Regions from separate parts of the Homo sapiens genome. Here region 2 is linked to region 1. The links come from fine-mapping of genetic effects on plasma protein levels. A gene starts in region 1. The other region holds a variant in brackets. All regions are shown on one strand. Distances are from middle to middle.

Region 1 (11,947 bases):
CCAATGTTCTCCTCTCCCAGGGAGGCTGCCAGTTCTTCGGTTTTGCGCTAACAATCCTGCAGAAACTTGAACTTACTCTTCACACAAGTGCTGGATCTCTGTATGGAAATGATGAGAATTTTTTCAGTTTTCTGTGATAGGTTCAAGCATGTGTGTCTTGGCATCTTCCACTTGTGTTGTGATGAATTAGATTTCTTTTTCTAGAGCCTGTATCTTTCTTTTAGGATCAGACACTGATTGTCCTTGGTCTGAACATTGAGGCTTCTCTTATCCCATGGTTGACTAGGATGCGAATGCAATTCTATATTATTCACAGAGCTCAATTTGCCCAGAATACCAAGCACTTCTGGATTTTCATATTCTCTGATCATAGGTTGACATTTCATGTGTTACAGAGTGGTTGCCAGTCCTCAAGAGTTTACCTCTGGTGGAGGAACACGAAATACTCACAAATCATCCACCATTCTGAGATATGTGTGTCCTGTAGTAGGGGAAAGAAACCATGAGAAAGAAGAAGGTATAGCATCCCAGGCAGTGGGCCAGACTGCACTGAGGCAGAAGCAGGAACAGAGTTTGCCATGTTGAAGAAGTGAAAGAACAAAGGCAGAGCAGTAGGCCTGGGAAGGCGGAAGCGGAGGTTTTCTGCAAGAAAAGGATGTGAGGGGAGTTTAGGAACTCACAGTGGACCAGTCACACTCTAGTGATGACATAAAAAGGCAGATGTTGTCAGTTGGAGCCATGGTCACACAGAATATTGATTGGACTGAGGAGCAAATAATGGCTTTAAAGGCTAGCAGACTTTGGGTTGTATTTGCAGTTCTTCCCTCATCTGAGAAATGGGGACATTTACTCTGACACCCACAGGATGCCTGGAGAGATTAAATGCCATACAGTCTGTAAAGTGCTTGGGTCTGACCCTGCACCCCACATCACAGGGGGATATCCAGTGCTAAGATTCATACAGATTCTGCAGGTCTTAAGCACTTTTGGTTAGCCTTGGTGGGTTTTTTCAAACCTTTAAATATTAATCTTCCCCAAATTTATCTTCCTTCCAGGCCCCCACAGGGTCCAGCCCTCCTTCTGTGATTTCTTCAAACTGACACCCTGGAGGCTGTTGATGAGAGGACACCCTCTGGTGAGGAGACACTGGGTTCACAGTCCAAAGGCAGAGTACCAGTCATACTCAAGGTGAAGAAAAATTGCACACAGTAGGCCCGAGACTATTATTTTTAGAGGCCTACTTGCAAGGTTGGCCTTTGGCTGAAGTCTGGGAGCTTGTATTTCTCAAGAGTTCCCACCATTCCCAGAACTTACAAGAGTGGCTCACTGTACCTAAACTGTTATACAAACAATATGATTTATGCTAAACACCTCTTTTCCTTCTAGGAGTCCGGAATTTTGGTGCATGCTAGGCAGAAAGTGACCAACATCCAATAAAAACTTTGGACACTCAGTCTCTAATGAGCTTCACTCGTACATAATATTACACATATGTTGTCAGAGTCTGTTGCTGGAGGAATTAAGCATACCCTCTGTGGTTCCACTGAAAGAGGACTCTTGGAAGCTTGCAATTGGTTTCCTCCAGACTTCACCTCCTGCACCTTTTTCCCTTTGCTGATTTTGCTTTGCATCTTTTCACTATAATAAATTATAGCCATAGCTGGGTGCAGTGACTCATGCCTGTAATCCCAGCACTTTGGAAGGCCAAAGCGGGTGGATCACTGAGGTCAGGAGTCTGAGACCAGCTTGACCTACATGGTGAAACCCTGTCTCTACTAAAAATACAAAAAATAGCCAGGTGTGGTGGCACATGTCTGTAATCCCAGCTATTTGCGAGGCTGAGGCATGAGAACTGCTTGAACCCGGGAGGCAGAGGTTGCAGTGAGCCATGATTGTGCCACTGCACTCCAGCCTGGGCAATAGAGTAAGACTCCGTCTCATATAAATAAATAAGTAAATAAATTATAGCCATGGGTATGACTATAGGCTGAGTCCCAGGAGTCCTCCTAGTGAATCGTGGAACCTGGGAAGGGCCTTGTCACCTCAACACAGATGACATACTGTATACCAACTCAAGGCGTTGTGTGAATTAAGTGAGGTATTACCTATAAAGCAACTAGCACACAGAAGCACATATCAGTTAGTCAACAAATGCCTGTTCCTTCTCCCTCCCTTTGTCCTTCTACATCTTTCTAATTTTTCTCTCATAGCTCATTGCTTTTATTGATTAACAAATGTTTGCTGTGGTCCCATGTTTCAGGCAGTGTGAAAGATACAGGATAGGATGACCACAGTGAGCCCGACCCTCTCTCCTCATCTCACAGTCCAATGTCTGAAGTTGTCTGTCTCCATTTCTGTGTTTATATCTGGGCTGGCTTGAGACATCAGGGATGGGCAAGTTTCTGCATCTCTTCAGGATGTGCCTGTGGGCCCTCAATCCTCCCAGGACAAATCTTTGGCCAGGTCCATGTTTCCTAGGGCAGTTCCTGAGGAGGAAGTGTCCAGGCAGGCCCAGCTCCCTGTGTATCTGCAAGAGCCTCTTTTATCCTTTACAAGATGCAAGACCTGCTACCTGTGTTTCCAGCCTGGCATGAAGAATCTGGCTAAAATCCTAACCCCACAGCCCAGAGCAACAACCTCGAGGAGGAGTAGCCTCAAATGAAGCACCAGCCAGCAGACCCCAGAGCCACCTGACCTGGAGCAGATCCAGTGACTGGTTGTTCAGGGCTTACAACATAGACTCCTGCCTATCCAGAGGGTAGAGACCACAAAGTCAAATGGAGCCCAGAGTTCATCCACGTAGCATGAGCCATGACCAAGGGCTTGGTGTCCTGATTCCCGAGGTCTAAGTTCAGAGACCAGAGCAGAGACCAGGAGCTCTGATCTCCTAACCTTCAGCCATGATCTCAAACAACCAAGCCCAGAGATAGATGGACTGAGGCTAGACAGTCAGGACAGGGACCAGACCCCAAATTTAGAACTCAAGTTTCAAAGAAAAAAATTAGATCAAGGCCCTGGGGTCAGCCCAGAGAGCAGCTCCCAGAACGAGGAGACCAGAATCCAGGCCCAGAATCTGCAGCCCAGAGCTCACATCTTGGAAAGGGAGGAGAGGAGAGACAGCACTACTATTTGCGAGATGCCTGGCACCCTGGGAAGTTCCAGAGACCCGAGTCTGGATTTAGTCTTTCAAATGCCAAGATCTTTACTACACCTAACATTTGCAATGCTTTTCTTTCTCCTTGAAATGTACTCTGATCTCTCAGGGTATCCCTTGGCCCCCTGCAGTCCTAAGCATGGCCACAAGATGGCAGGGCTGACCCATACTTTCCCTGTGGGACACAGCAAAGTTTGTTCTTCCCTCAAGTGCCCTGGGCCTTCAGGGCCAGGATACCCCCATCCCTCACCATGGCCCCTGGAGGCCATACAGAGCCGCCTGAGAAGACAATCCTCCCTCTCCACCATTCTATCGCTCTTTAAACAGGGGAGTCAACTTGGGGCCAAGTATTCCTGGGTGAGTCTGACCTCGTTATTCTAGGTCTGCGTGTGTCTGTCCGCACCTATCTCAGAAAGCAATCCTTCTTGGTCCTCTTTCAGCGCCAAGAATTTTTTTTCTTGTTTTCTCAGTGGGTAGAGCTTCCCGATTAGCACTCTTACATATTTACCATTACTAAATGCTCTCCTTCCGCCCATTTACAGCTGAATAACTGAGGCTCAACAAGATGAGGGCGCTTGTCTAAGTCACAACCCTCAGGTCAGGATGGAGTGGAATGAAAATGAGATATGTGTACATCTGTCCGTGACACCTTCCTGACCCCCTCACTTGGGGGGTCTGGTGACTGGGTACCCAACTGTATGCAGAGGGGAGAGGCAGCTGGTCTGTAGCCCAGCCAGCCCTGTGGAACCAGCCTTTCCTTGGCCCTTCTGGAAGAGAAGGTCTCCCTTAACCCTCCCCGACCGTCCCCCACCTCCAATTCAATAGGCAGTTCACTCTCAATCAATTCAACGCACTCTCCTCCAGGGTCTCTACTTTTCTGTCCAGGACAGACTCACCTGTATCTCCATCTTCCTATTCTAGAGAGGTGTTTGTGGGGATTGATTGGGTTCCTCTGAGGTAAGTGGGTCTCTTAAAGCTGCGCTGGGCTGGGGGCCGATGTGGATGTGTTGTGCTTGAGGAGGGAGGGAAGGAGGGGAAGAGGGAGGGAAGGAGGGGAAGAGGGAGGGAAGGAGGGGAAGAGGGAGGGAAGGAGGGGAAGAGGGAGGGAAGGTGGGGAGGAGGGAAGCAGGGAGGGGAAGAGGGAGACAGAGATGGGAGGAGGGAGGCAGGGAGGGGAGGAGGGAGAAGCAAGGAAGAAAGGAAGGAGGGAAAGAGGAAAGGAGGAAGGGAAGAAAGAGGGAGCCCAGCCTCCAGCCTCTGGGCCCAAAGCCGGCAAGGCCCACCCCTCTGCCTTCCTTTGCTGCTCAGCTTTGCCGCGAGGCCGGGCTGGAGGGACCCTTGATGTCACAGCTGCAGACAAAGGGAGCACACAGGGCCTGTGGACTTACCGTGTGCACGACGATGCGGACACACCTACTGTGCCAGGCATCAAAGGACTCTCAGCTCCCAATTTACCCTTCAAAACATGCTCTGTGATTAAACCACAGAATTCCTTTCAGCGTTTTTCGAGTGAGCACGATGCAAAGCTTCTCAGTAGAGGGCGCTAGAGAGACATGGCAAGAAGAAGGGGGCTCCTGCAGTTTCGGGAGGCCCCCTCGGGAGTCGGCCTGGCGGGTGGGAACATCTGGGGGCACCGCGGTTGGAATGCGCAGTCTGGCCGCGAATCCGGGGGCTTGCAGTTGCGCCCTGGCCTCGCCACCAACCCCCTGCAGCCCTCGCGACAGGGACACCGAGGCACGAAGCCTCCTGCCTGCACCTCTGTTGTGCTGCCTCTGCTCGTCCCTCCCTCTTCCCCCAGGTGTGTCTCCCGCAATCTTAGGGAAGCGGTGCCCCTCCCAACAGGGACACCGCGCTCCGGGCCGCCTGTTGCACCTACGACCCACTCCCGCGGCGCGACCACTGCGGCCAGGACCTGCGGCTTGCCTGGCCCACCTGTGCTCCGGAGGGGGGCTGATGCCTGCTTGTCCCAGAACTGCAGAGAAGCTCTGGCCCAAAAAATTAGCACAGCCACCCAGTGGGTTCAACTACCCTTTCTCCAGTGAGGTCTGAACCATACAGAATGTCTTACATTCTATACTTTTTAATCAGGGTTTAATAATTCTTTATATTAAACTACCCCTGTTTAGATCACTGTGTGATGTCTGTTTCCTGATTGGCTCCAGAGTGCTAAACCTTTTCATCCTCGCAAAGCTACAGGTGAGCTCATTTAATCACAGGTGGGGAGACAGACTTTAAGAAATGGCACAGACTCCCATTCAGATACTCCCCCTCTCCCAAGCACATACACAAGTATATGTACACAAGTGCATGCACACGCACACACATGGATACATACAGGGTGAATTTTTGTCGAAGCGTACAGTGTGGGATCTTAGGTAAATTAATGATGCAATTAATCCGTTAATAATGCAATTAATCTATCATTAATCTACATCTGAGCTTTCTGTGTCTCTGGTCCCAGGAAGGTAGAAAAGAGCAGGAAGGGTACCAGGAAAGCTGCCTCATGATATTGGAAGCTCTTTGGGGTCACTTATGATTTTTTCCCTGTTGTACCCAGGCTTGGCTCTTACATGCAGCTAATCACAAGAATCAAGTGAGATGGTGTTGGGAAGAAGAGTGTTTCTGCCCAACTCCCTACATTTCTGATCCTACCCTAAATATCTAGATTTTTAACCATCACAGGGAAGGCGGTTTGGTGATCTAATTGGTTAGAGCCCAAGCACTCACTGTGCCATGGCTTTTGGTAAGCCTCGAAAGGTGAGCACCTCTCTGCGGTATCCTCCCTATGTTCCCAGTTTCAGGCCTGGGGAGCTGCCATCTCTGTCTCTTCCACTCCTCCTTGCTGGTATCTGTGGGACTGGTTGGTTTAGATGCAGGAGTACCATCTCTCCAACTCCGTTTTGTGTGTCAGAAAGCTTTGCTTGTTTGTCTTTAATACGCCAAATCTCCTGTTTCTAACCCCCTGACTTCCATCTCTCCAGTTTCCCAGTCCTGCAAGAGTCCTTTGCTCTGCTCTTGCAGTTTCTCCGTGTGTTCTTCAGCAATATGCACCCTGATGGTTTGCACTTTCTATCGTGTTTATTATTCTAATGGCTAATGTCCATGTTAATATTTCTACTTCATTGCTTTTCTACTGCCTCTTGCTTGTGTCATGTGGGCAGTATCTTCACTGATTTTTCTATGGATATTGATTATACTTATTTTAAATTACTGGTATTCCTTTCCAATAATTTTGCAGCCAGTAGTGTGTGCTTCTGGTCCTTATCTTTCCATTGTGCTGATCGTGCCCCTCTCAGCCTGCTCTTTATCTTAGCAGTGAGCAACCTCCTTTTGGGGGTGTAGCCTGTCTGGTCACCTCTGACACATGCTGCTCTAGGTCACCAGGTGAGCCAAAGCAGAGGCAGAGAATGGGCCTGGACAAGAAGTGTCCCTGGCCCCAGAAACCTATCAATGATGGTCACCCACTAGGAAATTCTTGTTTTTTTTTTTTAGAGAGGGAAGCTGCCCCAGAGGGAGGACGCTGGTGGAAGGAATATACCAGGCCTGGGAGTGAAGGGGCAGAAGGAAGAATGGCAGTAAGGAATGTCTGAGGAGAGTCTGAAAGCCACATGTGTTCTGATTTCTGTGGCAAAAGAGCAGGTCTTTGCTATCCTAACTACTGAGCTGCCTTTCACTGCAGCCACCCTGTGTTCAAGGCCATGTCACAGATAAGCATGTCTCTATCACATGGGCAGATATGACACCCTCTGACCACCCACCCCATGGCTATAGGGGCCTAAGGTAGTCCTTGCCAGATGCAGTGCGCCTGTGTATTTGTGTTGGTTAAAAAGAAGGCCTGTGACATTTACACATTCTCAGAGAGTTCATGAGCAAAAACAAGCAAAGAAAAAATAGCAGGACTGGAACACAGGACAGTACAGGATGAAAAGTATGGGAAGGTCAGGCCTTAGGGTTACAAAGGACACTGCTGACAACAAGAAAGCAGCCTACCGCTGTCAGCTGTCTCTCACAGCCTGTCTCTCATGGCCAGACCATGGTATTCCCTGCTGACCCTAAACACTTCCACAGAATACCGGTGTACAACAATATTACTCTGTTGTGAGATCCCAAATCATTCCAAAATCATGTCTTCATATAGACAGAAAAGGTTGCTCTGTGAACCACAAAAACGAAAAACATGCCCCTCTCCTGCTTAATATAAACATCTGCCACTCTTTTACAAAATACAGCTTCGCCTTGCTCTGTTCTACTTATCTCCTAAATAAAAGTTAAGATGCACAATCACAGAATTGCCCAGCTTACGGACAGCACCCTATCCAGAACAGACTCCTGCTTCTTAAACCCCTTCCCCCAAAACCAACTAAAACAAAACAAGTCTTATAGAAATCCCCTCCCGACACCCTGTTACTGAGAAATCCTAGGGTACACCATTGTGCTCAATATCCCTGTTGGAACAAACAGTTAAAAGAAACTAAAAATAATAAATCCATTTTATCTGACTATAAGCATATTCCTGATGGTCCTCACTTGGAGAGCAATAACATTCTCATTGCTATTGTCCTACTCACAGCAGCTCTGTGGAAAAGGGAATGAGGTTCAAAATCTGATTTGAAAGATGTAAAACTGAGGTTCGGCCAGAATATGGGGTCTATCTAAGCTCATATTCATGAGACAAAACCAAGCCTTCTGGTTTCCAATCTCAAACCATGCCTCTCACATGGAGCCACCCAAGAACACTGCTTCCCAAGCTGAGAAGACTCTTGAACAGTCACCCTGGAGGGAATGAAGGCCTTTCTTAAGCAGGCTGTCATGGTGAGCCACGTGCCATGCACTCTGAATGTGGACCAGTTAAGGACACACCACTCCACAGCCAAGGCAGCGGTGCCCTCTTTCCCAGACGAGGAAACTGAGGACATGAAGGCAGTGGAACTTGAATAAGGTCACACTGTTGGGAAGTGGGAGAGCTGGGATTTCACCCTAGTCTACAAAAAAGGGGATGTAGGGCACCAGGCAGTCCTCCTGCAGGTCAGAGAGGCAGTTTTCTCTGCAGCCTCTTGGGGTGAGGTGGATTTGTTGTGGCGCTGCCAGAATGGAAGCAGTGTTAGGAAAGTGGAAAGTTTTTTTTTTTTTTAGACGGAGAGGCTCTGTCGCCCAGGCTGGAGCGCAGTGGTGCAATCTCAGCTCACTGCAAGCTCCGCCTCCCGGGCTCACTCCATTCTCCTGCCTCAGCCTCCTGGGTAGCTGGGATTACAGGCACCCGCCACCACGCCCGGCTAGTTTGTTGTTTTTTTTTTTTTTGTATTTTTTAGTAGAGATGGGGTTTCACTGTGTTAGCCAGGATGGTCTCAATCTCCTGACCTCATGATCCGCCCGCCTCGGCCTCCCAAGGTGCTGGGATTACAGGAGTGAGCCACCACGCCTGGCTGGGAAGGGTTTTAAAGTCCAGAACAAATGCACACAGTGGCCTTATCTATGGGGTGGAGTGCAGAGTGGGCATTCGTGTGGAGAGAGACATTCAGGCTGCGGCATGTGGAGAGTGGCCTCTCCTTTTGGGAAAGGCCTTCTGGAGAGCAGGATGTAACTGGGTGACACTCCAATCTCCGGATCAATTGCTAGATTGACTTTCCCCCAGATACCCACACCCTCTGAACCCAGTTCTAGGAAATTTCAGGGTCTGGAGAGCAGTTTCCTGACCTCTGGACTAGGTAAACAATGAAAGCAAGCACTGTGATTAAAGCCAGCACCGCCAGTGACCTGGAGTCAACTACCTCACCTCACCTTCTGCCACTGGAGCAGGAGCAGGGGGAAGCTCTGGCTGCTAAAGAATAAGAAGGGAAACAAGTCTTCTCAGGCCCTGTCTTCTTTAGGCCCTGGATCTCCTGATATCCACTGATGGCTTTAGGCATGTGGCTCTGTACCATCCTGGACATTTTTCCAGGCACAGCAGACAGGTCAGCAGGAAGTAAGGAAGCCAGTCCCTCCACAAGCCAAGAAGACTTCAATTGGAAGGGACCTGGAAATGCATCTTACTCACATTTCTTTTGGTGTTTGGAGGCCTCCATAGTACCCCCACCACATGGCCCCGCAGCCTCTGAACTTCTCAGGATGGGCTCCCCAACACCCCAAGCTACATGGCATTTTTCTGAAAGCCATATCAGTAATGTAGTTGAGAATCAAATGAACTATGTTCGTAAAAGTATTCTTCCATCCCTTCTAGATTGTCCCCATTAACCACAGCAAGATGGTTCAAGCCATTAACACACACGATACCCATGATCTTATAGTGCCAAGTGCTGTTCTTTTGCTTCTTATCTCAGTTGAGTGGCTCCTAGATAGTCAAGTCATAAATGTGTGTGCCCATGAAAACTTCTTATTATCACTCACTATTCTAGCTAATTCTCAAGTGCAATCAATACCTCCTGTTTCTCAAGTGTGCCTACCTTCTTAATCTAGCTGCCATTACCCTGACCCAGGCCACTGTCTTCTGCTGCTTAGATCATGGCAAGCACTTCCTTTTAGATCTGCTTTTCTCCAGTCCTGTTCCCCTCAACATCATAGCCAGAACAAGCCTTGCAAAATTCAAATGTGATCACCTCTCCACTACTGCAGTCCCTCTAGTGCCCCCTGGAAGGAAACCCAAAGTCTTTAACACAGTTTACAATTCTTGTTATGAGGATGAAATTTGAAGACATTGTGCTAAGTGAAATAAGCCAGATACAAGGGGGCTATTGTATGATTTCACATATATGAGGTACCTAGGATAGATGAATTCAGAGAGACAGAAAGTAAAACAGAAGTTACCAGTGGCTGTGGGTAGGGGTAAATGGAGAATTCTAGTTTAATGAGTTGAGAGTTTCAGTTTGGGATGATGAAAATCATCCCATGATGTGGTGATGATAGCACAACCGTGTGAATGTACTTAATGCTACTGAGTTGTGTGCTTAATAATAATGGTCAAAATGGTAAATTTTATGTCTATTTTACCACAATGAAAAACTGGAAAAGTAAAGTCAATGACTATAATATCATAAAGTGTAAGTAACATGAGAGAAAATAATTCAGGCTAAGAGGATAGAGACTGCTAGGTAGGACTATTTTAGAATAAGTGATCAAGGTACTGATTTCTCTGAAATTGGAATATTTGAATAGAAGAGAAAGAGCTAGCTGGCGATGCCCGTAAGGGGTCCAGGCATGGAGACATCAAATGAAGAGTCTGAGGCAGGAATGGCCTTAATGCATTAATGGCAGCAAGAGGTCTATGTGGTTTCATGGATGGGTGTGTGCGTGCATGCACGTGTCTGTGTGTATAGTTGGTGTGCATGAGCATGTGTATGCATTTGTGAGTATCTTTGTTTTTCTGTTGGAAACAAGGATGTCAACAGGACTAACTAGGTGAACCTAGCTGTGGTAGTTCAGCAATGAGATTTGCCAAAATGGATGGCAATTGAAAGAGGAATTGTGCTGTATTAAAGCAGACAGCTGCCGAGCACTGTATTGGAGGCTCCTAAATTTCTCATAGTTCTGAGAAGAGCTGTTTATTAATCTGGAGTTGAAGGCCAGGCCCAGGATATCCTTGTTCACAAGGTTGATTGGGCCCTACATTGCTGAGCCCAGCCTCCTCCCTCACTCTGAGGCATCTGCCAGAGCCCCAGGCTAGAGGGCCAGCGTCCTTGTCACTGAGTCCCTGCTCTGCAGAAACACCAGTAAGTCATTTCTGGTGAATAAATCTGGGTTTCCGGATCAAGGGTTTGGGGAGCTGACATGACCCTGGAGGCATGGAGGAGGCTTTCTAGGGGTGGGGGGAGTGGGATGGAAAGCAGAAATCAGGTTGAGGATGTCTCTTTTTCTGCTTGTGCTGGAGCATCTGTGACTTTCCTCCATTATCTGTTCATCTGCAGTGGAGACTGTCTTTGTTTTCAAAGGGAAACTTGGAGGCTTAGACCTATGGGGCTAGGCTGCTGAGGTTTCTTAGGGGGCAATAGCTGGAAGAAAGCTCTGAAGAACAAATGAAAGGTTAATACTGAGAAATGGGAGGAGGATTCAAGGCAAGTTTTCTAATTGCCAGTGGTTTTTGACTCACAGAACATGGGGAATTCCTGCCAGAAAGTAGAGAGGTATTTAGCACTCTGCCAGGGCCAACGTAGTAAGAAATTTCCAGAGAAAATGCTTACCCAGGCAAGCCTGTCTAAAACACCAAGGGGAAGCAAACTCCAGTTAATTCTGGGCTGGGTTGGTGACTAAGGTTGAGGTTGATCTGAGGTTGAGACCTTCCTCTTTGGATCACCAGCTTTCAGCTCAGGGCCTGCCAATGAGTAAATGATAGTTAACAGGTCCTGGAGGGGAATCAGCTGCCCAGATACAAAGATGGGATTCAGGTGGCAGATGGACCCGAAGAGGACATGGAGAGAAAGAGGAAGCTCCTACAGACACCTGGGTTTCCACTCATTCTCATTCCCTAAGCTAACAGGCATAAGCCAGCTGGCAATGCACGGTCCCATTTGTTCTCACTGCCACCGAAAGCATGTTTATAGTCTTCCAGCAGCAACGCCAGGTGTCTAGGCACAGATGAACCCCTCCTTAGGATCCCCACTGCTCATCATAGTGCCTACCTTTGTTAAAGTACTAGTCACGCAGTGTCACAAGGAATGTTTACTTTTCCAAATCCCCAGCTAGAGGCCAGGGATGGGTCATCTATTTCTATATAGCCTGCACCCAGATTGTAGGACAGAGGGCATGCTCGGTAAATATGTGTTCATTAACTGAGATTAACCTTCCCTGAGTTTTCTCACACCA
Region 2 (12,784 bases), 22 kb before region 1:
CCAGGACTTCCAGCCCGGGGGATTTGTAGCACGCAGAGGGTGAGTTGCTGCTCCAAGGCTGAGGGTGACTGACTCTCTCGGGAGGTGGTGACTGCTGACTCTTGCGTGGTGCTGAGGATAGTAGAGTCTGCCATGGGCTACAGTGTAATGCTGGCATTTCTGCCAGAGCCAGAGCTGCATTGACAGGGGTCTACCACTCTGCAGTAAATACCACCCGAGAATTCACAGCACTGTCATAAACATAATTTCACAGAGCGAGAATTATTAAGCTTCTGATAGATAACATAAATATGAAAATCAACTGAAAAAAAAAGGGCAAAGGGGGTTTGAGTATGGAGAGTATTTCATTTCTTTGTGGATCTGACTTGGGATGTGGGCACTTGTGAGTAACACCACGGCTGCATTTTAAATTCACAGTTCTTTTGTGTAAAAGACATGTGGGCAGAATTCCATTAATTTAGTGAATATGATTAAGGTAGATGCTCAAGCCAGAGAGAAAATCAGAAAGATATTTCTCTTTGCGTTGAATGCTCTGTAATCCAGTATTATTTGATAAAGGGAATAATATCAAAGTTGAGACTCAGGTGCACACTCCTAGAGCAATTTGACATTGCCAGGACCTCCAGGTGTGATCACTGGACCCCTGTGGTTGATCAGGGTAGAGACCTGCTCTCTAACAATTGATCAGCGTTTCCTGAGTCTGACCCCAGCATTAGTCATGCACAGTAGGACCACCTTACAGTATGGCATATTTTAAGATTGGTTCTGCAATTGTAACCTCAAAGTCTAGAAAATCCTTAGTGCATTTCCTTTGAAAGATGATTTCAATATAACTATAACTTAAGAAGCTAACTTGTTGGAACTGTCATTGATGGAACGTTGAAATAAATATCCAGAGCTTAATAAAATTGCTTTCAAAATCTCTGAGAGGTTTCTCTGCTGTGAGTATTATTAAAATAAATCATATAGACATATTACACATGCCCTGTGAGCCATTTCGTCACCCCCACTCAGTCCAGATCAGAAAAGTCCATAGGAAAGATGCAATTTTTTTGACACACTAAAATATTTAAATATTGATAAATACGGCATTTGTTGAAAGTGCTCTTAGAGGTATTCTAATATAGGAGATTGCTATTTTTCATAACTTATAACATTATGATTGCAGAATGACATAAGTTTAACAGAATTATCTATATTAATTGCAACTATGCTTATTTCAATGAATAATGTGTTCAGTTTGTGTAATTCTTTTATTCCTGTTATGTTACTTTGATTATATTTATTGAAATGAAATTTTAGGGTGTTAAAATACAATATTTGGGGCTTGACTTTTTATTTCTTTATTTTTAAAATTTTTTCTAATAAGGCATTTTACAAAACTGTCAGTCTGGAAATTAAACAAATTAATAAAAGATTCTTCACACATAAGATACGAGAAGCACTGCTCTAGATCTTATTATTCCTCCATAATTTTCTCTGAGCTGTGAGATTCTGACCAAACTTGATGGTGAAAAAAAAATTGTAGTAAGGACACTGGAAACTTTCTGGCAATGCAAATTCAACAACATAAATCGTATTTTATTTTCTTCAAATAAGTAGTTTTCTCTGAAGTTTCATAATAATTCAGGTAATAGTTATTTTCTGTTTGGTTGTTTTTGTTTTTGTTTTCCTCCTTCCAAGCCCAGAAAATCCACCAATTGGAAGGGGAGGACTCTTTTCTTCCCATCCCACTCATGAGAACAGTGAAGGTAATGTCCACAGGACATGTTCCTTACAGTCCCACCTTGTTGGACCCCACTCGGTAATTTGGAGTCTTGTGATCGTGATCTGGGAAGAAAGGGCAACAGCTTTCCAGGTGAAGGTGCAGGGAAGAGTTGTCTCCTTGGAGTCCAGGATGGGAGCCTACTGCTTGCTGGGAATCTCAGCTGGTGAAAAGGATGCAGGGCAAGTAGTGGTTAAGCATGGTCATTTGAGCATCAAGGTGAAAAGCTGCTTCTAAATTGTAGGGACCAGATCCACACAGCGATCTCTCCAACATGGGTGGAAAAGGATGTTCTTGGCCACATTAATCACACCTCTCTCCAGAAATCCAGGCACCAGGAATTAAGCCAAACACCAGATGAGGGCTCCCCATGTGCTGTTAAGAACTGCAGCCTTCCTGCAGGAGCATCAGTAGACCCAAAAGGCCAGAAAACATCTTCCTGAAGCCCCAAAAAACAGAAGCCTCAACTGTCTGCCCTTTCTATATTCCTGAACTGTAGAATCTTTGAGCATAATAAAATGGCTGTTGTTTTAGCCAATTCAAGATGATTTATTATGTAGCAATAGTAACTAGGACATACCGATGTTTGTGTTAAAGTCAGAGGAGCTTTTAAAATTTTTCAGACCATTGCAGATGTTATATTTATCAATTTGCAGTAAATATCAATATATCCAGATCCGTACACATTTTACTAAATCATAATCTTTATACTAACTTTCATTTATTTGAAATGTACATATCACTAACGACACATTCCACAATATATGAATGTTGTTGAAGATTGGAGCTTTTCCTCATCCATGTTTATTATTTTAAAATTTACTGTACATTTCAAAACTCTGTATTGTTGCTTATTACCAACTTACTAAGGATAATAATTGCAGACATTTTACTTTGTGAAATTTTAATGTTTTTATATTAAAATAATACGTTTGAACAACTGTAATAAGAACTCTAGTGAAAGCATTGGTTTAAATTACTATAATATATCATAACTATAAGTAAAATAGTTCTATTTTAATTATGTCAACTGTAATAAAGGAACTGTCAAGCAGTGCAACTGTAAAAAGAGTAAGAGTTCATTTGCAAATGGAAAGCAAATAAAATAGTGCATTGCATTCCAGAACTAAATTCACATTAGAAGTATGTTGTATACATATTTAAGTGACATACTTAAAGCCTTAACATCTAAGTAGAATAAAAAAGTACTTGACTTGACATCTTTGCTTACCATCCAAAGTAATGATTTTAATATTTACTTTTTTTCTTCAAAATTGGTAGATATACATCCAGGAGTAAGTGAATGTGGTAAGGCTACAGTATTCTATTAAACTGAGTCATGTAATTAAATGTATTTTATAATACTAATGAACATATATTCCATCTTTATATAGACATATACATATGTGCATGTCTATATGTGAGAGATATATTTGTTAATTATGTCACTTCACAATAAATGCTGGACAGTTTATTTGTTTAACTATGTCCATTTAGAAGATCCAAGAAAATTTTGTTGCTGACATTAATCTGTAGATTTCTTATTTTTTAATTTTTAAGTGAGAATTGTATGTGTTAATATCAAGAGGATATTGTATTCATTCATTTAAGCCTAAAAACACTTTGCACATATCTTCCCCTTTTTAGTTAACATTCACTCTGACAGGGAAATCTTTGGATTATGATTAATCTGCTCTGAATTCTTTAGGAGAGTAGTTTTACAATAATATCTCTGAGTCATTGCTTGGTGGGGAAAGTTACTTGGTTTATGAGTATTTCTTAGGAATACACATGTTTTCTGTTTTTCTGACCAATGGGATACGTTTTTCTATTGGGACACCAATTAAAACATTGTGCTTGTCAACAAAACTCAGATTATTCTTAAAAGAGAGAAAAAATATAAGTCCAAACAACTGAGATAGAAGCTAGGGTTATCATTAGTAAAGAAACTGTAGCCACTCAATTAGCCAGAAACTAAGGATGCTTGGTAATTTTTGTGGTTGCATAGTGTCCTTTTCCCGATATTTAGACATGATTGCAGAGTGGTGTTGTTTATATCTTGTTTGGCCACAGTCACTTGTGGCCTCTGATTATTGATAATATTCTGAGGAGTATTTCTGGTCTGTAAGAAGCAGTATAACATGTTGTCAGCTGTCAAGACTTTTTTTTTTTTTTTTAACTTCTCGAGTTTTATAATTCCAAGAACATAGGACTTCACTAGTATTCAGGTGTTATACATTCTTTCCCCACCTCACCCCCAGGCCACTGTTTATTATGGATTATTAGTCAGAGAGAGTTTCATCAGATTTCATTATCTATAATTTCCCAAGTCAATCTCTGAAATAAAAGCAATTACAGTTAGAAAGTTGAAAGCTCAGAAGCATTCAGGATGTATTTGAGGAACTCAGAGTGTTGGTTGGGGGATTGAAGCAGGAATATAATGGGTAGGAGGCAGGACTAAATTGCAGCTCCCAATCAGATGGACAGAGCAGCATGTGGAGACTCACATCGTGAACTTTCACTCCAGTAACTACTGCACAAACATACCGGGAAAGCTAAGAGAATCTAAAGACCCTTTGAAGGAAGTGGATTGCTCTTGCAGGCCACTGGAGACAGCCGGAAAAACTCAGAAAGCAAAGGATGTAATCTCTTTGGAGTTCTAGGGCCCCATCCACCACCTGATCCTCCCTATGCTACTGCAGTTGATGCTGTCTTGAAAGCACCACCTCCTGGCAGGAGGCCAACCAACACAAAACTAGTGCAAGAAACAAAACTACAACTAAGGACTCTCACAGAGTCCATTTTACTTCCTTGCCACCTCCACTAGAGCAGGTGCTGCTATCCATGACTGAGAGACCTGAAGATGGTTCAAATCACAGAACTCTGTGAAGACACCCAACGGTACCAGTCCAGAGGCTGGTAGCTCAGCTGGGTGGCTGGATCCAGAAGAGACATAACAAACACTACAATTTGGCTTTCAGGAACCCACATCCCTAGGAGAAGGGGGAGAGCAACACATCAAGGAAGCACCCCATGGGACAAAAGAATCTGAACAGTAGCCCTTGAGCCCCAGATCCTCTCTCTGACATAATCTACCCAAATGAGAAAGAACCAGAAAAACAATTCTGGTAATATGACAAAACAAGGTTGTTTAACACCCAGAAAAGATCACACAAGCTCACCAGCAATGGATCCAAACCAAGAGGAAATCTCTGAATTGACAGAAAAAGAATTCAGAAGGTCAATTATTAAGCTAATCAAGGAGGCACTGGAGAAATGTGAAGTCCAACTTAATGAAATCAAAAAAATGGTACAAGATATGAAGGGGAAAATCTTTAGTGAAATAGATAGCATAAGTTAAAACAAAACCACAACTTCTGGAAATGAAGGCGACACTTAGAGAAATACAAACTGCACTAGAAAGTCTCAGCAATAGAATCAAACAAGTAGAAGGAAGAACTTCATGGCTCAAAGACAAGGTTTTTGAATTAACCCATTCCAACAAAGACAAAGAAAAAAGAATAAAATAATGAACAAACCCTCCAAGAAGTTTGGGATTATATTAAATGACCAAGCCTAAGAATAATGGGTATCCCTGAGGAAGAAGAGAAATCTACAAGTTTGGAAAACATATTTGAGGGAATAAGCAAGGAAAACTTCCCCAGCATTGCTACAGACCTAGACATCTAAATACAAGAAGCTCAAAGAACACCTGGGAAATTTATCACAAAAACATCATTGCCTAGGCAGTCATCAGGTTATCTAAAGTCAAAACAAAGGAAAGAATCTTAAGAGCTGTGAGGGAAAAGCACCAGGTAACTTGTAAAGGAAAACCTATTAGATTAACAGTAGATTTCTCAGCAGAAACCCTACAAGCTAGATGGGATGAGGGCCCTATCTTCAGCCTCCTTAAACAAAACAATTATCAGCCAAGAATTTTGTATCCAGTAAAACTAAACTTCATAAATGAAAGAAAGATAGTCTTTTATAGACAAACAAATGCTGAGAGAATTCACCACTACCAAGCCAGCACTACAAGAACTGCTAAAAGCAGCTGTAAATCCTGAAACAAATCTTCAAAATACACCAAAATAGAATCCCCTTAAAGCATAAATCTCACAGGACCTATAAAACAACAAAACAAACAAA[C/T]AAATAAATAAATAAACAAGGTGTTCAGAAAAACAAATAGCATGATGAATAGAATAGTACCTCACATCTCAATACCAACATTGAATGTAAATGCTCCACTTAAAAGATACAGAATGGCAGAATGGATAAGAATTCACCAATCACGTATCTGCTGTCTTCAAGAGACTTATTTCACACATAAGGACTCACATAAACTGAAGGTGAAGGGGTGAAAAAAGATATTCCATGCAAATGGACACCAAAAGCAAGCAGGAGTAGCTATTCTTATATCAGAACAAACAAACTTTAAAGCAGCAGCAGTTTAAAAAGACAAAGAAGGACATTATATAATGATAAAGAACTTGTTCAACAGGAAAATATCACAATCCTAAATATATATGCACCTAATGCTGGAGCTCCCAAATTTATAAAACAATTATGATTAGACCTAAGAAATGAGATACACAGCAATACAATAATAGTGGGGGACATTTCAATACAATACTGACAGCACTAGACAGGTTATCAAGACAGAAAGTCAACAAAGAAACAATGGATTTAAACTATACCCTAGAACAAATAGACTTAACAGATATTTACAGAACATTAAACCCAACAATGACAGAATATACATTCTATTCATCAGCACATGGAGCATTCTCTAAGATAGACCATATGATAAGCCACAGAACAATCTCAACAAATTTAAGAAAATTGAAGTTATATCAAGTACTCTTTCAGACCATAATGCAATAAAATTGGAAATCAACTCCAAAAGGAACCCTGAAAACTATGCAAATACATGGAAATTAAATAACCTGCTCCTGAATAACCACTGGGTCAACAATGAAATCAAGATGAAAATGTAAAAATTATTTGAACTGAATTATCATATTGATACAACCTATCAAAACCTCTGGGATACAGCAAAGGTGGTGTTAAGAAGAAAGTTCACAGCCTTAAATGCCTACATCCAAAAATCTGAAAGAGCACAAATAACACAAATAGACAATCACACCTCAAGGAACTAGAGAAACAAGAATAAACCAAACCCAAATCCAGCAGAAGGAAAGAAATAACAAGGATCAGAGCGGAACTAAATAAAATTGAAACAAACAAAAAAATATAAAAGATAAATGAAACAAAAAGCTGGTTCTTTGAAAAGATAAACAAAATTGATAGACCTTTAGTGAGATTAACCAAGAAAAGAAGAAAAAGGACTGAAATAAGCTCAACTAGAAATGAAACAGGAAATATTACAACTGATACCACAGAAATACAAAGGATGCTTCAAGGCTGCTACGAACACCTTTATGCACATAAACTAGAAAACCTAGAGGAGATAGATAAATTCCTGGAAATATACGACCCTCCTAGATTAAACCAGGAAGAAATAGAGACTCTGAACTGACCAATAACAAGGAACAAGATTGAAATTAAAAAAAAATTGCTAACCAAAAATCCTCTAGGACCAGACAAATTCACAGCTGAATTCTATCAGACATTCAAAGAATTGGCACCAATCCTGTTGACATTATTCAACAAGATAGAGACAGGGAACCCTCCCTAAACCATTCTATGAAGCCAGTATCACCTTAATACCAAACCAGGAAAGGACATAATCAAAAAATAAAACACAAACCAATATCCCTGATGAATATAGATGCAAAAATCCTTAACAAAATACTAGCTAACCGAATCCAACAGCATATTTAAAAGATAATCCACCATGATCAAGTGGGCCTCATATCAGGGACGCAGGGATGGTTTAATGTTCACAAGTCAATAAATGTGATATATCGCATAAACAGGATTAAAAACAAAAATCACATGATCATCTCGATAGATGCAGAAAAACATTTGACCAAATCCAGCATCCCTTTATGACTAAAACCCTCAGCAAAATCAGCATAGAAGGAACATACCATAATGTGATAATCTATGACAAACACACAGTAAACATAATACGGAATGGGGAAAAGCTGAAAGCATTCCCCCTGAGAACTGAGACAAGGCAAGGATGGCCACTCTCACCACTTCTATTTGACATAGTACTGGAAGTCCTAGCCAGAGCAAGCAGACAAAAGAAAGAAATAAAGGGCATCCAAATCAGCAAAGAGAAGGTCAAACTTTCACTGTTTTCTGATTATATGATCGTATACCTAGAAAACCCTAAAGACTCATCCAAAAAGCTCCTAGAACTCATAAATGCATTCAACAAAGTTTCAGGATACAATATTAATGTACACAAATCAGTAGCTCTGCTATATACCAACAGTGACCAAAGTGTATTAGTCTGTTTACATACTGCTATAACAAACTGCCTGAGACTGGGCAATTTATAAATGAAAGAGGTTTAATTGACTCACAGTTCAGCATGGTTGGGAATGCCTTAGGAAACTTACTATCATGGCAGAAGGCAAAGTGGAAGCAAGGCACCTTTTTCACAAGGTGGCAAGAAGAAGTGCCCAGCGAAGGGGGAAAATACCCCTTATAAAATGATCAGATCTCATGAGAACTCACTCACTATCATGAGAACAGCATTGGGGAAACTACCCTCATGATTCAATTACTTCCCTTAGCACATGGGGATTATGGGGATTACAAATCAAGATGAGATTTGAGTGGGGACACAAAGCCTAACCATATAACAAGCTGAGAATCAAATCAAGAACTCAACCCTTTTTACACTAGCTGCAAAAAAATTTAAATAAAATATTAGGAATATACCTAACTAAGGAAGTGAAAGGCCTCTACAAGGAAAAGTACAAAACACTGCTGAAAGAAATCATAGATGACACAAACAAATGGAAACACACATGGATGTGCAGAATCATGAATTTCAGAATTTCATCTCATGGATGAGTAGAATCAATATGGTGAAAATGACCATACTGCCAAAAGCAATCTACAAAACCAATGCAATTCCCATCAAAATACCATCATCATTCTTCACAGAACTAGAAAAAACAATCCTAAACATTCATATGGAACCAAAAAAAAGAGCCCACATAGCCAAAGCAAGACTAAGCAAAAAGAACAAATCTGGAGCCATCACATTACCTATACTATAATATAATACAGTATAGTATATTCAAACTATCCTATAAGGCCATGGTCACCAAAACAGCATGGTACTAGTATAAAAATAGGCACAGAGACAAATGGAAAATAATAGAGAACCCAGAAATAAAGCCAAATTCATACAGCCAACTGATCTTTGACAAAGCAAACAAAAACATAAAGCGGGGAAAGGACACCCTATTGAACATATGGTACTGGGATGATTGGCAAGCCACATGTAGGGGAATGAAACTGGATCCTCATCTCTCACCTTATACAAAAATCAACTCAGGATGGATCAAGGACTTAAATCTAAGACGTGAAACCATAAAAATTCTAGACGATAACATCGGAAAAACCCTTCTAAACATTGGCTTAGGCAAAGACTTCATGACTGAGAACCCAAAAGCAATGCAACAAAAACAAAGATAAATAGATGGGATTTAATTAAACTAAAAAGCCTCTGCACAGAAAAAGAAACATTCAGCAGAGTAAACAAACAATGCACAGAATGGGAGGAAATCTTTGCAATCTATACACCTGACAAAGGACTGCTATGCAGAATCTACAAGAAACTCAAACAAATCAGCAAGAAAAATACAAACAATCCTATCAAAAAGTGGGCTAAGGATATAAATAGGCAATTCTCCAAAGAAGATATACAAATGATCAACAAACATATGAAAAAATGCTCAACATCACTAATGATCAGGGAAATGCAAATCAAAACCACAACGCAATACCATCTTAGTCCTGCAAGAATGGCCATAATCAAAATATCAAAAAATAATAGACGTTGGTGAGGATGCAGTGAAAAGGGAACACTTTTACATTGCTGATAGGAATGTAAACTAGTACAACCACAATGCAAAACTATAGAGATTCCATAAAGAACTAAAAGTAGAACTACCATTTGATCCAGCAGTCCCCACAACTGGGTGTCTACCCAAAGGAAAAGAAGTCATTATATGAATAAGATCCTTGCACACTCATGTTTATGGCAACACAATTCATAATTGCAAAAATATGGAACCAGCCCAAGTGCCCAGTAATGAACAACTGGATAAAGAAACTGTGGCATATGTATATATACATACCATGGAATACTACTCAGCCATAAATAGGAATGAAATAATGGCATTTGCAACAGCCAGGATGGAACTGGAGATCATTATTCTAAGTGAAGTAACTCAGGAATGGAAAACCAAACATTGTGTGTTGTCACTTATAAACGAGAGCTAAGATATGAGGATACAAAGGCATAAGAAGGATACAATGGGCTTTGGGGACTTGGGGAAAATGGTGGGAGGGGGGTGAGGGATAAAATACTACACACTGGGTACAGTGTACACTGCTTAGAGGATGGGTGCACCAAAATCTCAGGAATCACCGCTAAAGAACTTACTCATGTAAGCAAACACCACTCTTCCCCAAAAACCTATTAAAATTTTTTTAAAAAACAAAAAAAGTATTTGCATAATTCATTTGCAATAGAAAGTGATAAGCCATGTAAGATCTATTTGCTGCAAATTGAAATACATATTGCTTCAGCAAAGTTACTTAACTGGGTAAAATACTACCTGCAAATCTAAAGACACGGAAAAGTGTTCTAATATATACTAGATATATTATATCTAGTATATATTTATCAAGTGATATTTGATGGGCCAATAAGCTAAAAAGTTGGAATTAGTTCCTAGATGAGAAATATAAATTTAGAAGCTTTTTAAACACAGCGTCTACATGTATTTCTCAGAATCTAATATCGTTAATTTATACTTGTTTTCTGGAAACTACCTACATATTGTAAGTGGCATTTAGTTTGTGATTATAATTTTTAAGATAATTTCACCCTACACTTTTTTTTTTGCTTAATTTGCTTTTCTGAAAGTTAATAATAAGAGCTTATATGTGTCAAGCACTTAAATATTACAAAAGTCATTTCATTTGAAACTCACAAATAATATGCAGAAGATATATTTACTATAGTCATTTTGATAAGGAGGAACAGAAAAAAAAATTGGTCGAGGTAGTACAATAGAAGGAGCTAAAGACTGGAAACTACCATGGATTTGCCATGTGGTTTATAATTATGTTATACTCCCTGCTAGAAGGCAGGAAAGAATTTGCAGAAGACAATATATGTAAAAGGAATTGGCAAACTGTGATTATTGTATTATTTTGAAACATTAAGGAAAATGATAAGCAGCAAGATCGCAAGTTTCCACAGGTCTTTTCTGTTTCTTACTCAGATTGTGTGACATAAGCACAGTGCCATATCAAGGGCCATATATATCAATCATGGCTCAAAGAATGAAATGAAATTCAAATGTACAGTAGAAAATTTTTAAAATGACTGTTACTTGACTGACTAGCTTCTTAATAAGTACTTGCCATTCTTCTGTAAAACACTGTGGCTGTTGCTCGTAACAAGCTCAGTACTAAAACTAGGTATGCATGTCCCTATGAACATCCACCCCATTACACAACCATCTTCCAGTTCATCTTTTGTCTGAGACTAGGGTTTTACTTATTAATAATACAAAAATCCACATAGATTCAGGCTCAGTAAGACGTAATCCATTTTGATTACATTTCTTCTTTCCTTGCTAACACTTTAAACAATAGAATAACCTGCTTGGTGAAACAATTTAAAGCACCAAGAGAGATTCTGTAATGCCTTTTAAGATAGATTTTGAGATTACTGCCTTGTTGAAAAAGACTTTCAGTGAGAATCATGGTTTATTTTCCACTGTAGATATTTGAAAAGTTTTAGAAGTTGAATTTTTCACTAGAATATTTGTTCTATTAGAAAGGATCCTTGTCTATTCTGTTCACTGTTGGCTCCCTACTACATATCATAACACAGCCTTGTGATAAGAATTTGTTGAATAAATAAATACATTCTAAGTATCCTTCACTGTCATCATGCATTTCTTTTTAAGGGATAAGCCTTCAAATGAAATAATGCCTCTAAGGAAGTTCTATAACCACAGAAAGAAAGATTCAGATTCTCATTAAATTCACATTTTAAATTTTGAAAATATTTACAAACATATGTATCTGATAGCAGACGACAGAACATTATTCTGATAGTTTGATCTATTAAGTTCTTACAATTGTAATTAAATTTTCTTGGATAACTTCTAAGGTGCAGAAGGATTATTGAGTCTTGCTGACTGCTGATTTCTTTGTTTTGCATTTTCTCTAATCTTAGGAGAAAATAAGGATTTTTTCCTTTTTGCCATGTCAGAAGATTGATTTCCACATAAGTTTTAGGACTTCCCTTGAGTGAAGAGGCTATTAACTCTAAAATAGTATCGAAAGAAGATTCCTGGAAGCAGAAAGGTGATTTAATTTTCACTTAGGTAGGTATCTTAGTCTTTTAAGAAAAGCCTCTCATTAGAATTATATTAGTTTTAAAATCTTTATCCTGGACCTTTCTGTTAGTTAGGTCTTAAGCAGGTTTTGACCTTCCTTTTTATTTGAAACATTAAAGATAGCAAAATCACAGCTTTGATTAGAAAAATTTTAATTGGTAAGGTAATGCTAACTCTGGAAGCAAACACCAAAATAATTGTACTTGGGGAAAATATGGATAGAAGTTTATTTTTCAAAAAAACTTGAATACTGACAATATTCCTTCTCTTAAAATTGCTGTCTTCTAAGTAGGAATTCAAGGACTCAGTCACCTTCTGTCACGTAGCATGCAAAAAACTTACCTACCTATTCCTAGTTTGCCAAGAATTTTTTTAATCATGAAAGAGTGTTGGATTTTGTCAAATGCATTTTCGGTATGCGGTTTTTGTACTTTATTGTATTAATCCT

Direction of the effects. Alleles are on the strand shown, and positions count from the first base shown. The strength of an association depends on the size of the effect and on how common the allele is.
For the plasma level of the protein whose gene starts at base 10,810 in region 1, allele T in region 2 goes with a lower level than allele C (weak association).

Evidence for each region. A credible set is the group of variants that fine-mapping cannot tell apart. PIP is the chance, under the fine-mapping model, that this variant and not a neighbour inherited with it causes the effect. Protein levels are from antibody-based Olink assays in UK Biobank. Linkage for the fine-mapping came from a reference panel and not from the study's own genotypes, which makes the PIPs less certain.
Region 2: its variant is the best candidate, but not a certain one, in a credible set for the plasma level of the MBL2 protein (UK Biobank, PIP 0.86).

Annotation. Positions count from the first base shown.
Region 1 is chr10:52,771,647-52,783,593 of GRCh38, reverse strand. MBL2 (mannose binding lectin 2) reads left to right here and starts at 10,810. Exons shown (of 5, transcript NM_001378373.1): 1 at 10,810-10,857. LOC105378306 (a long non-coding RNA gene) reads right to left here and starts at 4,436. Exons shown (of 4, transcript XR_945963.2): 1 at 4,051-4,436. It overlaps LOC105378307 (a long non-coding RNA gene), which reads left to right. Exons shown (of 4, transcript XR_945965.3): 4 at 1,056-1,453.
Region 2 is chr10:52,792,862-52,805,645 of GRCh38, reverse strand. The region is part of intron 2 of LOC105378306 (a long non-coding RNA gene); the gene reads right to left. All of the region lies in intron 2 of LOC105378307 (a long non-coding RNA gene), which reads left to right. Among named protein-coding and RNA genes, the nearest start is that of MBL2, 26 kb to the right of the region's middle. The variant C/T (reference allele first, on the strand shown) is at 5,915.